Linked DNA regions of Homo sapiens: region 2 is linked to region 1. The links come from fine-mapping of genetic effects on gene expression. A gene starts in region 1. The other region holds a variant in brackets. All regions are shown on one strand. Distances are between the middles of the regions.

Evidence for each region. PIP is the estimated chance that this variant, and not a neighbour inherited with it, causes the effect. A credible set is the group of variants that fine-mapping cannot tell apart.
Region 2: its variant is the best candidate, but not a certain one, in a credible set for the expression of SPSB1 in whole blood (TOPMed, PIP 0.67).

What each region holds. Positions count from the first base shown.
Region 1 is chr1:9,291,036-9,295,413 of GRCh38, reverse strand. SPSB1 (splA/ryanodine receptor domain and SOCS box containing 1) reads right to left here and starts at 2,520. Exons shown (of 3, transcript NM_025106.4): 1 at 2,343-2,520. RefSeq lists silencers at 1,586-1,875, 2,416-2,485, 2,556-2,635, 2,686-2,855.
Region 2 is chr1:9,420,164-9,424,541 of GRCh38, reverse strand. No RefSeq gene overlaps it. Among named protein-coding and RNA genes, the nearest start is that of LINC02606, 6.6 kb to the left of the region's middle. The variant C/T (reference allele first, on the strand shown) is at 2,153.

The DNA of each region.
Region 1 (4,378 bases):
TAAGCCGGCATGGCACCCGCCTTGCTCCCTGCTCGGGGCTGTCTGAGCCACTGGGGCCAACATGCTACTGCTTTTGTTTTCTCTGCTGCTAGGGTGGTAGCCAGACTGGAAAAGGAAGACTTGTAAAGTGATTGCCTTAGTCCACTCCACACCTCCCCAACCGCACGCGCGCACACACACACACACACACACACACTCACACTCTCACACACACACACACACTCCATCTACTGGGTAAAGTGCTCCCTGCAGAAGAAAAGCAGCTGTAAGAGAGCAGGAGTGCTTTAAATGATCTAATCCAGCCCATCACTTCACAGCTGGGGAGACACGAAGTGCCTGGCCCATGACCTCAGTGCTGGGGACAGTAACCAAGAGCAACAGTTTCAGGACTGGGGAGTCTTGGTCCACAGCCCTGGCTGTGCAGTCTGGGTAAGTGAACCGCCCTCTCTGGGCCTCTCTAGGACAGGCTGGCCTAGACAGTAAGACAGGACTTCCCTGACTCCAAAATTCCTCAGTGTGGAGAGACCACCTGTGCTGCCCATGCTTAGCCCAGGGCTTTCCACCACTGGGAGGGGGGTCTGAGGAGGGGGACAGGGCAGAAGGGAGAGGCCCCCATCCCCTTCCTTGCTTGCTGTTCTCCTCACACCCCACGATGAGAAATGAAGTTGTGGGCCCAGCCCCCCCAACGAGAAAATTCTTCCAAGGACATCAAACCTTAGTCACCAGGGATGGCGCTTTTACCATGAACACCTGTTAAAACTCAACTCATGACCAGTTTCTGATGCTACAGACTGGAGTGTTTAATTAAATATTACTCACTCAGGAAGCAGCCCCTGCCAACTCACCCCCAAACTGTGTAGTTCATTTTCAGAGAAATGGAGAGAGGAAGAGCCTGCGCTCTCCTCGGGGGCACCAGCAGGGCTTGCCTAGTGGGGTGTCTGTGGCCCAGCATGCCCGGCTATCCAGAACCAAGTAAAGAAATCACCATGAGGAGCAGTACCTAGGAACCAGAGGGCCCCCTGGATGGTCCCCACACACACTCACAGAGAAACACACACAAAGACACACAGACACACACTTGGAGACACACAGACACTCACACATACACAGACGCACTCAGAGACACAGACACAGAGACAGACACAGAGACACGTGTGGACACACAAAGAGACACAAAGACACACACACGCAAAGACACACACAGACACAAAGACACAGAGACACACATTTGCAGAGACAGACACTCAGAGACACAAACTTGCAGAGACACACACCCAAAGACACATACACACTCACACACAGACACACACAAAGACACACAGACATACACAGAGAGGCACACACAAATACACAAAGACGCACTCAGACACACACACACACACACAGTCACTTAGAGTCTCAGGCACACATTGACAGACACACAGACTCACACACACACTCAGAGGCACATAAATACACAGATGCACTTAGAGACACACTCACACACACACCCACATGAACACACAGACACACTCATACGCAGGCACATATTCACAAGGACATGCACAAACACACACGCAGATGCACTCTCAGAGACACCCGCTCTTCCTGCAGACCCGCACCCTCCTCTCGGGGCCGTCCCGTCCTCACCGGAACCTGGACGCCACCGAGCCCAGTACACGCCCGGGGACGGTGACCCATCCGCGGTTCCTCCCGCGGGCCCAGGCCGCCCTTGTTTTTCTGATTTAATCGATTTCCTGACAACCCTCCGGCTCTCCCTCCGCTGCTGGGAGAAGCCGCGGCGGCTCCGGGGCGGCGGGGAGGGCGGCGCTCGGGTGTCCCCGGCAGGCTCCCTGGGGGAGGCGCTGCGGGAGGGTGGGGGCGCCCCGACGGGGGACCGGGCCGCGCCGCCAATCCCGACTCGGACTGGCGGGAAAAGCGAAACTAACTCAGCCGAGCGGGGTCCCGCTTTCCCCGGGCTAAAGGGGGGACGGGTCGGCGGCCCCGGAGCGCCCCAGCCCCTCCTCGGGACCGCAACTCGTTGCGACGGTCCCCGCGCCCCGAGACCCCCGCCGCGCCTCGCCCCGGGACCCCCTGCCCTGCAGCGGCGGCAGCGCGGGGCGGGCCTGGGCCCCTCTCCCAGGAGCCGCGGCGAGGGAGGCGCCCCCGGAGCCACCGCGGGAGGGGCCGCGCCCCGAGTCCCCATCCCGTACTCCACCCGCTCCCCCGCGCCCGGCCCCGCGCCACCCACTCGGTCCCCCAGCGGCGCGATCCCCGCGTCCGCCCTCGCCCGGCCCCCCGCGCCTCCCCCTCCCGGGCCGGTCGCCCACCCATCGGGGTCCCAGGTGCCCCGCGCCGCCTACCGCGCCCGGGGTGCCGCCGCCGCCGCTGCTCTCCAAGGCCGAGGAGGCTCGGGCGCCCGGGCCGCGCCCGCCGCAGGGAGCGAAGTCGCCTCCTCCCCGCGGCCCCGGCCCCGGCGCCGGCGCCTGGAGCCTGGTTCCTGCTGCGAGCGCGCAGGCTGCCCGAGCGCGACTTCTGTGCGGAGGAGAAAAAGCAACCGACGGCTTTAAAGTGAAAAAAAAGAGAAAAGCGCCGGTGGGCGGGGCCGTCCCTGCCCCGCCCCGCCCCGCCCCGCCCCCGACCTCGGGCGCACGGACCACTCAGCACTGCAGGGAAGGCCGGGGGCGCGGGGCGCGGGGCGCGGGGCGCGTCAGCCCGGCGCTGGTTCGGCCGCCCCCTCCGCCCCCTTAGTCCGCAGCCCTCTCCCGAGCCGCCGCCCTGGTGTTGCCGGCCCGAAGCTCGGGTCCCTCCGGAGGCGTCTTTGGGAAACGCGTGGCGCAGGGCCTGGGTTGCAGCCGTGGGAGGCTGGAGTGGGGGCGGGGGTCTTACGAGAAGGAGAAATCTTCGCGGAGAGTGGGGTTGTCCCAGGAACCCCGAGCAAGGCCTCGCCGGCCTCCTCTGAAGTGCCCAGCGGGGACGAGTGGGCAGCCGCCGGGGGTCCAGGGAGCCTCCTGCAGCGCTGTTTCGGCCGCTCGCGTTTCGGTGCCCACGGGGACGGGGGCCTCGGACCTCGAGACCCTGAGGGCGCGGGCACCTGGCATCCGCAGGGCTGCTCCCTGAACAGGTCCCAGCCTCTGGGGACTTGTCCTGTGGCTCTAGCTCGTTCAAGGAATTTTCCTCCCCCTTCCCCGAACAGAGCAGTCACTTGGGACTGGGAAGATTTTAAAGACTTTGCTGTTTTGAGAGCAAAATCTCCTGGCATTCCCCACCCCTCGCTGTGTAGTGTCCATTGAAAACGGTGAGGAGTTAGCCTTTCTGGGGGAGCCGAAACAAATAGCGGGGCTTCCGTAGTTACTGTGTCTTTACCATAACCCAGTACAGTGAGGGTGGGACTAATGACACACTCACTGTAAAGGCGAGGAAACAGTGCCTGGCCCGAGGCCAGCTGTCCAGAGCTTGGAACCCAATTGAACTGTGAGATTACAAAGTTTGATGTCTCTCATTTTACGGTGCTGAAAATCAGTTTGGTTTAGCTTTGTTTGAACTCAGAATAGGATTACGGAGACTCAACCAACTGCCCTGGGCTGGGCGGGCCTGAGTGGGCATTCTGACTTTCCAGGTGCCAGCGGTTTAGGAATGTTGAACCCAGACTAGTCAGGTGGGCAGCCATGGCCAGCAGCTTAGGGGTGCTTCCCATTTAAAAGATCACTTGAGGCTGGAGGTGGTGGCTCTCACGCCCTTAATCCCCACACTTTGGGTGGCTGAGGCAGGCAGATCACTTAAGCCCAGGAGTTCAAGAGCAGCCCGGGCAACAGAGCAAGACACAGACTCTGCACAAAAATTAAATAATAATAATAATAATTGGCCGGGCATGATGGCTCACACCTGTAATCCCAGCGCTTTGGGAGGCTGAGGCAGGTGGATCACCTGAGGTCAGAAGTTCAGGACCAGGCTGGGCTTGGTGGCTCACACCTGTAATCCCAGCACTTTGGGAGGTCGAGGCGGGCGGATCACGAGGTCAGGAGATGGAGACCATCCTGGCTAACACGATGAAACCCGTCACTACTACAAATATAAAAAATTAGCCAGGCGTGGTGGCGGGCATCTGTAAGTCCCAGCTACTTGGGAGGCTGAGGCAGGAGAATGGTGTGAACCCGGGAGGCAGAGATTGCAGTGAGCCGAGATTGCGCCACTGCACTCCAGCCCAGGTGACAGAGCGAGACTCCGTCTCACAAAAAAAAAAAAAAAAAAAAAAAAAGAAGTTCAGGACCAGCCTGGCCAACATGGCAACACTCCATCTCTACTGAAAATGCAAAAATTAGCTGGGTGTGGTGGTACGTGCCTGCGATCCCAGCTACTCGGGAGGCTGAGGCAGGAGAATCTCTTGAACCCAGGAGGC
Region 2 (4,378 bases), 130 kb before region 1:
ACCCCATTGATGCTAAGCCTCTCCCTGCTGTCCAGGATCTCACCACCTGCAACCTCCAGCTGGATTTGCCTTTTCAGTTCAAGGTCTTGACTCTTGACTGATGTTTCCCCGCAAAAGCTGACATTGCAGAGTGACTTCGTACAAGCCATTGTTCCTGGCTGGGAATCACCCGAGTTCATTCATGAGAAGGTCCCGAGTGATCTAGGACTGTTTGTATTTTTACCCAAAGAAATGAGTCTTTTGGGATAATTTCAGGCACAAAGAGCAGTCTGGCAGGGGAGACATTTTTTATTTGTTGCTTTAGTTGGGGAAGTAAGCCTTTGGCTCACCTCTAAATTCCCACTGCTCCCCTCCCACTGTAGAAAGCTGGCAGGATGGTTGGAAGCAATGTGGGGCAAGGATTCTCAAACTCAGCATAATTATGGCCTGAGGAACTTAAAAAATGCACATTCCCAGGTCCTGGCTTTCAGTCTCTGAACTACATTTTTTTTTTTTTTGAGACAGAGTCTCATTCTGTCATCCAGGCTGGAGTGCAGTGGCGTGATCTCAGCTCACTGCAACCTCTGCCTCTCAGCTTCAAGCGACTCTTGTGCCTCAGCCTCCCAAGTAGGTGGGGCTACAGGTATGCACTGCCACGCCTAGCTAATTTTTGTATTTTTAGTAGAGATAGGGATTTTGTCATGTTGGCCAGCCTGGTGTCGAACTTCTGGCCTCGAGTGATCTGCCTGCCTCGGCCTCCCAAAGTGTTGGGATTACAGGTGTGAGCCACCGTACCTGGCCAGAACTACATTTTGAGAAATACTGGTTTTTGTGGCAAGAGACACAGACCTAGGTTCAAGTACTATAATTAGCTGTGTGACCTTGAATGTGATCCTTCTGAGCTGCAATGCTCTTAGCTTTAAAACAGGAATTAAGCCTATCTCCTCCACCTCATGGGAGATCATCAGCAAACGTGCTTCATGCCTGTTAAATGCCTTGGCATGTGGAAGAGTGCCATTTTTATACTAGTGCCAACCATGTGCTGTAGAGAAATACAAAGGAAGGCACAGACCTGGTCCCAAGCTCAGAGAGAAATTCCTTAAATCTTTGGGGCTGGATGTAAACTCATCGGCACTATTTTGAGTGAAGGCTATTGGCCAGAGTGGAAGGAAGTGTTTTCTATCTCATGCATGCTGGTGCCTCCCAGTGAACAACACAGCAAAGTCTACAGAGCGTGTCAGGAGCTTGAATCAGGTGTGCCAGGCAACGCTATGGTAACAAACAGCCCCTGGGTCTCAGTGGCTGAGCCCAGCGAAAGCTTACTTCTTGCTCATGTTGTCTGTCCCAGCAGGTCGGCAGGCAGTTGCAGTTCTCTTCCACAGACTCACTCAGGGACCCAGGCTGACGGAAGTTCCATCAGCTGTAGCTGCACCATCTGGGACACACGGCCTCCATGGCTGCGGCAGCTGGGAAACAGACCCTGGAGAAGGGCGCACCAGCTTTTTACTGCCTCAGCCTGGAAATGACACGTATCACTTCTGCTCAATTTCATCGGCCAAAGCTAGCCATATGGCACAGCTGGGAAACCCAGGGGAGTCAACGGTCTGTGTAGTGAACATTATTGTTTCTGCCACAGAAAACTTCCAAGAGTAGGGAGATGAGAGAGCTTGCGGTTCAGATTTCCAGTTTGGGCACAAAGACGGATGTCTCCTAGAGAGAAAGGGATGGGAGAGTCCTCTGTGGAGTGGCTTCTGTTCCCTACATCCCAGAGAGGCTCAGCTTTTCTGGCCGATGGAGTGCAGTTTTATTTGTTTGAGAATATGTTTTGTTTTCTTCCTTTTTCTCGTTCTTGCTTACCCTCAAAACATGGGAAGAAAAGCTGTCTGACTCAAACAGCCAGCAGTCTGGTCCGGGCCCCCTAAGATGGAGAGGCGCCATTTCCCAGCAGGCCAAGAAATGCCCCGGGAGCTCCAAGGGTTCTGTGGGTCCCGGGATGAGAGGCTGACACAGCCAAGAAGACCCAGGGTGAGGCTGAGCGGAGGCTGAGGCGGCATGCCTGGCCGCCCACACTGCCATCCGTCCTAGCGCTCTGTGCAGAGCACGGCTGAAAACTCCCCAGGTATCTTTGGAAATGAAGAACACTGGGTTGGCACCCGGCAATTTGGGACAGCAG[C/T]TTTTCTGGAGCGCACAGCTTGGGAATAAGCCTGAAGAAATCTTTCATTCCTAGAGCGTTGGTGGATAAATGGTACTTATTTGTTTAACCTCAAATCAAGCCGCAGCCCCCATTTCTGGGGCTGCTTTGCGAGGGTTGTTTTAAAATAGCTGAACAAGCTGAAAATCACGGGTCTAGGTTGCTGGAATGGCTTTGCAGAGAGCAGCCGGGCTTAGGAAGTTCTTTAATTTTCCATAGAATGTGACTGGCAGTGGTTGGGGGTTGGGGTCGGGGGTAGGGGGAGGGAGGTGAGCTGTCGGAGAGGAACAAAGCCTGGGCCCTTCTTCTAGAAGGGTCCGTATTGGCTGAACAATCTCTGCAGTGGATTCAACCTGGTCTGGTCCCCTTGGGGGTTTGGGGTGGGATGTTATCTTGGAGGACTCCTTCCTGAGGTCTGCTGCAGGTGGCTTTGAATTCAGCAGAGTGAAGTTCCTCGGTTATTCCTGTCTGACTGGGGTCAATTTCCTCTTTTATTAACGGAACAGCTCTTTCCTCAGGAGAACCTATTTCATGGATTTAGGTAGGACTGACTCGGTAGTGTACATAACTGTTTAATGGCCAGCTGGGGGCAGGCAGAGGGGACAGGGAGGAAAGCCTTGATTTGTAGCATTTGCCAATTTCCATGGTGTAAATACTCCCCCACTACCAGCTTCAAGCTACAGACATAACATCACTGAGACGTCACTGACCTTGGACTCGGGAACAGATGAGCACACCCAGCTCTCACAAACACATCCCCGGTGCTGATTTTACCCCATCCAGGGCTGGGCACATGACCCAAAGCTGCCCTATGGGAGTTCCTCAGGGCCATCAGAGGAGACTGCTCCTTTTCTTAGGCATTGCTAAATAGAATGTTAGTTGGGGACTGCCAGCAGCCATCTTGCCAGCTCTAGAGAGAGAATTTGGTTGAGAGGGGGAGAAAGGGCACCCATGACATCCTCTGAACCCCTGAAGCCAGCCATACCTGAAGCTGGTGTATTCCTGGACTTTCCAACTACACACATCTCTAGCCCCTCTTCTTTGCCTAAGTAGTGTGGGCTGAGTTTCTGCCACCTGCCAATAAAATGCCAAGAATAAAAAAAATGGGTCACCCATTCAAGGAAGCCAATCTAATAGATCTGGCTTTATCTTGATTGTGGTGGTTTCCCAGGCATATGCAACTGGTAACATTCACTAAGTTGTACACTTTCCGTTACTGCAGCTTCTTGTAAGTAAATTCTAGCTCAATAAAACTGTTAAACATATAAAAAACATATTTGGGCTGTGTGTACTGGGGAGTGTGTGGATTTTTCTATATCAGTTCTGCCAAGCAGAGGGCCAGGTAGGAAAAGAAAATGAAACTAGAAGAACTGTTGTACCACCAACATCAACCACCAATATCTGCTTCGACCTATACTGAGATTTTTATCCACTCATGAACTTACCACCTGGGACTTTTTTTTTTTTTTTTTTGGTCACCCAGGCTGGAGTGCAGTGGTGCGATCTCAGCTCACTGCAACTTCCGCCTCCCGGGTTCATGCCATTCTCCAGCCTCAGTCTCCCAGGTAGCTGGGACTACAGGCACCTGCCACCACGCCTGGCTAATTTTTTTGTATTTTTAGTAGAGATGGGGTTTCACTGTGTTAGTCAGGATGGTCTCAAACTCCTGACCTCGTGATCCACCCGCCTCGGCCTCCCAAAAGTGCTGGGATTACAGGCAGGAGCCACGGCGCCCGGCCTGCCACCTGGGACTTCTTAGAGAAGAAACAGATGAAGAAGGAAAGCAGTACCTCCCCTGGGAGTGGGAGAAGCAGAATCTTCCCAAGGTGAGGCTGGGTGTCGCTCCCCCTGCAAGCCTTGGAAACCAGCCAGAGTTACCATCATCCTTTATCCATTGAAGTCAGCCTCGCAGAGCAACAATGCTGAACCGTGCAGAAGTGGCAGCCCAGCAAAGTTTCTGTAGCCTGGCTTTCTTTGAGAAGGTGATGAAACTAACCTGACATTAATCCATTCTGCCTTTCTTTCTTTGGGGCCTGAGGACAGGAGAGTGCTTGTAATCCCAGCACTTTGGGAGGCCAAGGCAGGTGGATCACCTGAGGTCAGGAGTTCAAGACCAGCCTGGCCAACCCCATGGGCAAAACCCTATCTCTACTAAAAGTACAAAACTTAGCCGAGTGTGGTGGTGCGTGCCTGTAGTCTCAGCTACTT